Regions from separate parts of the Homo sapiens genome. Here region 1 is linked to region 2. The links come from fine-mapping of genetic effects on gene expression. A gene starts in region 2. The other region holds a variant in brackets. All regions are shown on one strand. Distances are from middle to middle. Region 1 overlaps MCF2L2 (MCF.2 cell line derived transforming sequence-like 2). Region 2 holds the start of B3GNT5 (UDP-GlcNAc:betaGal beta-1,3-N-acetylglucosaminyltransferase 5).

The links. PIP is the estimated chance that this variant, and not a neighbour inherited with it, causes the effect.
Region 1: its variant is fine-mapped to the expression of B3GNT5 in whole blood (TOPMed, PIP above 0.99).

The regions. Positions count from the first base shown.
Region 1 is chr3:183,209,677-183,212,467 of GRCh38, reverse strand. All of the region lies in intron 22 of MCF2L2 (MCF.2 cell line derived transforming sequence-like 2), which reads left to right. Among named protein-coding and RNA genes, the nearest start is that of B3GNT5, 42 kb to the left of the region's middle. The variant C/T (reference allele first, on the strand shown) is at 1,480.
Region 2 is chr3:183,251,947-183,254,737 of GRCh38, reverse strand. B3GNT5 (UDP-GlcNAc:betaGal beta-1,3-N-acetylglucosaminyltransferase 5) reads right to left here and starts at 1,485. Exons shown (of 2, transcript NM_032047.5): 1 at 1,266-1,485. The region is part of intron 15 of MCF2L2 (MCF.2 cell line derived transforming sequence-like 2); the gene reads left to right. It overlaps LOC124906310 (a long non-coding RNA gene), which reads right to left. Exons shown (of 3, transcript XR_007096189.1): 3 at 2,183-2,203.

The sequences.
Region 1 (2,791 bases), 42 kb after region 2:
CACTTCTTGTACAGAGGAGGCCATCTAACTTATCGCTCGCTCATTTGAGGTAGCCGCTATGTTCCATCTCTGAGTTCACAACCATCAGGTTCTTCCACACACCGTGTGACATGGCCACACTTCTTTGTTACTGGTGGAAAACAGTTGGAAGTATATTCGTTTCCTAGGGCTGATGTCGCAAGGAACCACAAAGTACGTGACTTAAAACAACAGAAATTTATTCCCTCACAGTTTTGACGGCTAGACGTCCAAAGGCAAGGTGAGAGCAGGCCCACGTTCCCTCTGAGGGCTCTCAGGAAGAATCCTTCCTTACCTCGTCTGAGCTTCTGGTGACTGCCGGCAATTCTTGGAGTTCCTTGGCTGACAGCTGTGCCACTCCAATTTCTGCCTCTGCCTTTGCATGGCTGTTCCCTCAGCGTGCGTCTCCATTTCTTTGTTTTCTTTTTTTATAAGGATACCAGTCATTGGATTTGGACCCATCCTAACCCAGGGCAACCCCATCTTAACCAATTGTATCTGCAAAGACCCTCTTTCCGAATAAGATCATATTTTGAGGGTCTCATAGACATGAGTTTTTGGGGGAACACTATTCAACCCAGTACAGGGGCGTCGCTGAATGAACTCCTTGGATAAATCAATATTCCCTCACAGTGATGAGTATTTTGTTTCCTGTCCCCTACTCCCAAGCACCACTAAATGCCAATAAATAAATAAATACTAGGGAATGCCAATAAATAAATAAATACTGGTGAACACGTATCTGAAAGAGGTTGTGCAACGTGGTCTCCGACCTTGAGATCAACTACAGTCTAGTTGGAAAGAAAAGGTACACGTGACGGAAAAGGTCATTCTTGCTCCTGCTCAGGGAATGTCCCTGCAGCTTCCTGTTGGAGGCGGAGCAGCTCCACACAGCACAGTGAACAGTGTGTGTGCCTGCCCTTGGTCAGCACCGTGTAGGGCATGTGCTCACCCGCTGGAGATCGGACCTTGGGCGTGGAGATGGGCAATACCGTCATATGTGTGGTCCTGAGAACATTTGTGCAACATGACCCAGAGGATATGTGCCCATATGTTTCTGCCAGACTTGAAAGACCCAGCGACTCCCCCCGAGTCACTTCCAGTAATAATGGGCTTACTGGAAAGCTGACCTGCAGCTTCTCAAGAAGTCACGATGGCAAAGCCAAGTTCGCGGAGATGGGAACTGAGCAAACCCAGGATCCACAGCACCTCTGGGGCCTGGGCCTGGGGAGGGAGCCGGGGTTCTTACCTGTGTGACCCGCCTGTATATGTCAAGTGCACCCACATGCCTGCTCGCCCCCCCTCTTACCACCTACTGACTGTTTTTTTCCCTTCCGTCAGTTTCTTCCTCTTCCTCATAATTTCTAATGACTCACCTTCTTCATAGTTCTGTTTCCTTCTCGTTTATTCCACTGCCTGCTTTCCCCTAAAGCATCTCACAGCCCCGTCTCCTGCTGGTCA[C/T]CACTTCCTCCTGTTTTCTTCAGTTCAGGGAGAGATCACATTGCCAACCCCCAACCCTGGCACATTGTTTTTATGCTGGGGGCCCTATGGTCAGCTGCTGGTACCTCTCTGGATTCACATCCTCTGATTACTTGCCTATGAAGGTGCAGCAGCATGGCTGTGGATGGGGTGATGAGGAAAGTTCAGAGGTAATAAAGCACAAACCTTGCTGCCTGAGGCTGCCTCTTCAGCATTTCTGGTTGGGGCTGTTTCCTCTACAATAGCCTTGTGGATGCCTTAACTCACGTCACCCCATCTTCACAAGTCATTAGAGAGTGTACACCTCGACTTATTCCCCCTTCCCCTATCATCCTAGCCTCTTCTAGAATTACTTTGACAGCTGAGCCTCCACACTGACCAAATGTGTTCTTACAAGCAGCTTTACCTAAAACATGTTCCTCTTTCTATCATAGGGCGTGGTTGAGGATGTTGCTCAGTGACAACATATCACTGGGAGAAATGTTTCTTATGTCTTAGTAGGAATAGCTGTGCTTTTCCTGAACAACCGGTTTGTGTATGTCTTCAGACATAATAAATCGTACCACTCACCATGTTTCCCTCTGTATTGCTATTAGAAAGTCAGAGCCAAGTTTACATCAAGTTTAAATGGCTTTATTATATGCATTTTACATATAACCTCTTCATCTTTTCTTTTATCTTCTACACCTTCTGGAACAGTTCATCTGATTTATTGTCTTTATATTTAGGGATGGTGATCTCCCTATGTTGCCCAGGCTGGCCTCAAACTCCTGGACTCAAGTGATCCTCCTGCCTCAGCCTCCCAAGTAGTTGCGACTACAGGCAGGCGCCAAGCTCCCAACTTCTTTATTTTTTCTTCACCTTAATTCCCTCGGTTATTTTCTATCTGTCTATACTGTATATATTTCTGTAAGATGCGTCGAATGTTTAAAATGAGGTAGAGAGTGAATACATTGTAAGATAGAAACTACAAGTTTGAATATCCCTTAGCCAAAATGCTTGAGGCCAAAAGTGTTTTGGAGTTTTTTTTTTTTTAGGGGAGGATTGGAGTATTTGCATACGTACTGAGTTATGTTGCAGATGGAACCCAAGTGTAAACACGAAATTCATTTATGTTTCATGACACCTTATACACATAGACTGAAGGTAATTTTACATATTTTAAATAATTTAGTGCATGAAGGCCGGGAGCAGTGGCTTATGCCTGTAATCCCAGCACTTTGGGAGGCTGAGGTGGGCAGATCACCAGAGGTCAGGAGTTCGAGACCAGCCTGGCCAACATGCTGAAACCCTG
Region 2 (2,791 bases):
CTTCTTTCCAGCCCGACACGGGCTTTCGACTCGAATTCAGCCCTCCAGCCGGAGGCGGGTGGCCGCAAGCCTGGGGCCCCCGGCCGGCAACCGAATTGGTGGGCGCGGCGTTCGCCTCGCGGCTCCCGCGCACGGGCCTGTCCCGCCACCGAGGAGCCGGAGCTCCTCAGGGACGGGGACCCGCAGGCCCCGGGAAGCCGCCCCAACCGGAGCTGCCCGGCCCCCGAGCCTACCTGCCGCACCTGGGCGGCGGCCCGGCCTGGGTCCCAGCCGCTGGCCACCCGCGCGGGCAGGCCGGAGGGAACAAAGGCGTTCCGGGGAGGGGACGAGCCTCCTTCTCCGCCGCGCTTTCAGAGGGCGGGCTGCCGGGGCCCGCGGTGGGAGAGGCCTCCCCGGCTTCCCGACTTCCCGGCGCTGGGCCGTGCGCGGTCCGGGCCAGGGCGGCGGGCCCCGATCCGGTGTCCACGCCAGCCACGCGCCCCCGGCCCAAGCGCGCGTTCCCACCTGAAGTCCTGGCGCCACCCGCCGGGCGAGGGCCGGCGTGCCCTCACCTCCTCGCCACTCTTCTCCTCCAGAGACCTCGCTCGGCCCGGAGTGGGCAGACTCGGAGCCTCCCGCGCCGGAGACCGCGAGCCGCTCGGCCGAGGAGGCGCGGCGGGGCGGGGGCGGGGCGGAGGGGCCGGCCCGCAGCCCCCAATGCCGGGAGCCCGCGCTGGAGACCCAGGGAGCCCAGCTCGGGGCCGCGGCACGGAGAACGAACCATCCGTGGCCTGGAGACGTATCCCGCCGAGCGGCCAGAACTTTCCCCATTTAGCGATCCGGAAAGGAAGCCAACACTCCCACCCAGAGAGGCCTCGGCCGCGGAAAGATGCGGCCGCGGCACAGCCGTGTTTTCACCACGTAACTGACCACAGACTAACTCCGCGCGGAACCACCGGCCCAGGGCGCTCCGCCAAGAGGCGGACTGTGCTGGCCTCGCGGGCCCTACGCCCAGGGAACGCCGCGGTTCCTCCCACACGGGACACCGGTTCCGCAGCGCCGCGGATTAGGATGGTCTTTTACTTTCCGAGCGGGAGCTCTAACGCAGGCTCAGGCGGGTCTTGTTAAAAGGTTTCTGGTCACACCACTTATGCGTGGAGCTCTGGGGGCCTCAGTAACAAAGTAAGGAAACTTACAGCAAACTAGGGCTGCACTGCCGCTGTCCGTTTCTAAAATACGAGAAGAGGGGGAAACCCCGCCCCAGGCCAGCTTCCCAGTGACTTTACCTCCAAGTCCAGCTTCATTTCAAGGGCAGTTTAGAGCGAAACTCACGAAGTTCAAGCCCAGCTCTTTAAATGTCCAAATCGGAGGTCGGCTTTCCTTCCCGCATCGGAGCTAAAGTCGCTGGTCTCAAGAACAAAACTTGCGGGCTTTAAATCTTGGGCGAGGACTGGACGGGCAGCGCTGGACTGGGCTCGCTTCCCCGGCGGGATGCGGGCTGTATGCGGGCGGGATGGGGGCGGGCCCGGGCGGGGGCGCGAGGCTCCCAGCCGCGCGCCCCGCACTCTCGGCGTCACGGCCCGAGCCCGGCCCCGCCCGCCAGCCGCCACCCTCCCGGCGCGTAGGTGAAGGTGATGGGCCCCGCCCCAGTTTGTTCTTGTCTGTAGATGAGAATTCCAGGAAGTGTTTCCCTGCCGCTCGTCAGTTAATTGCGATCACTTACTCAAATGGCCAACTGGAAGCCAGAGTGCACATGAATGTCCTCTTTGAGCTATTTTCCTCCTTTAGAATACTTCATGCAGGTAACCAGACAATATCGAGAGATGCGGACTTCTACTCAACGAGAGAGATTATAAATGAATCCTGGATGCGCTTGATTTCTTGTTTCCCGCATGTTGTTAGACCTCTCCCTAAAGCCACAAAACATTTAACGGAGATAATATTTTGAGCGATTCTGTTATTGTACATATTTCAGAACATGACAGAAAAGCAAAAGATTAACCCAAATACTTTAGTAAAATAAAAGCTTTGAGTTTGTCGTAAAAGGAACAAGACAGGTAATGAGTTAAATGTATGATTGTCGAATCAGGGTTTAAAACAGTGGGGCCAGCAGACACGGTGGCTCACACCTGTAATCCCATCACTTTGGGAGGCTGAGCCGCAGGAGGATTGCTTGATCCCAGGAGTTAGAGACCAGCGTGGCCAACATAGCAAGACCCCATCTCTAAAAGAAAAAACACACACACAAAATGAAAACTGTTGTTCATTCAAACTAGATTTTTAGGAAGTTTTTAAATTGCTTTCCTTAAGCTGGTCAGCATCTTTTAAATCATGCAGTTCTTTTCATATGCTGCCTACACAGGGCATGGCTCAGCATCTCCCAGACTGTGGCACTGCATGTTCATCAGACCACAGACAGAAATATTTACATGTGTGATTTGCAAAGGAGTCATTGACAGTGACCCACAAATAAGCTGATTCATTGTTAATACAGCACTAATGACATACCTTCTCTAATAAAATGCTGACTGAAATCCCACATGCATTTCCCCCAGCCATCACATGTGTATGTTGTATATCTGTGCAAATATTCAATTACAATTATATTCCTTTCAGATCATTTGGAGCTAGGTCCATGTGTCAGTATACATATGTTCCACATACATGAGCACATAGAACTGTACCCACGAGAAATACAAACTGACCAAAACAGTGGTAGACACACATACAAATCACATATTCACATCATACTAGATACAGATAAACACACCAGATAGATAAATGGTTTCAAAAGTATGTCTGGAGATTGGAA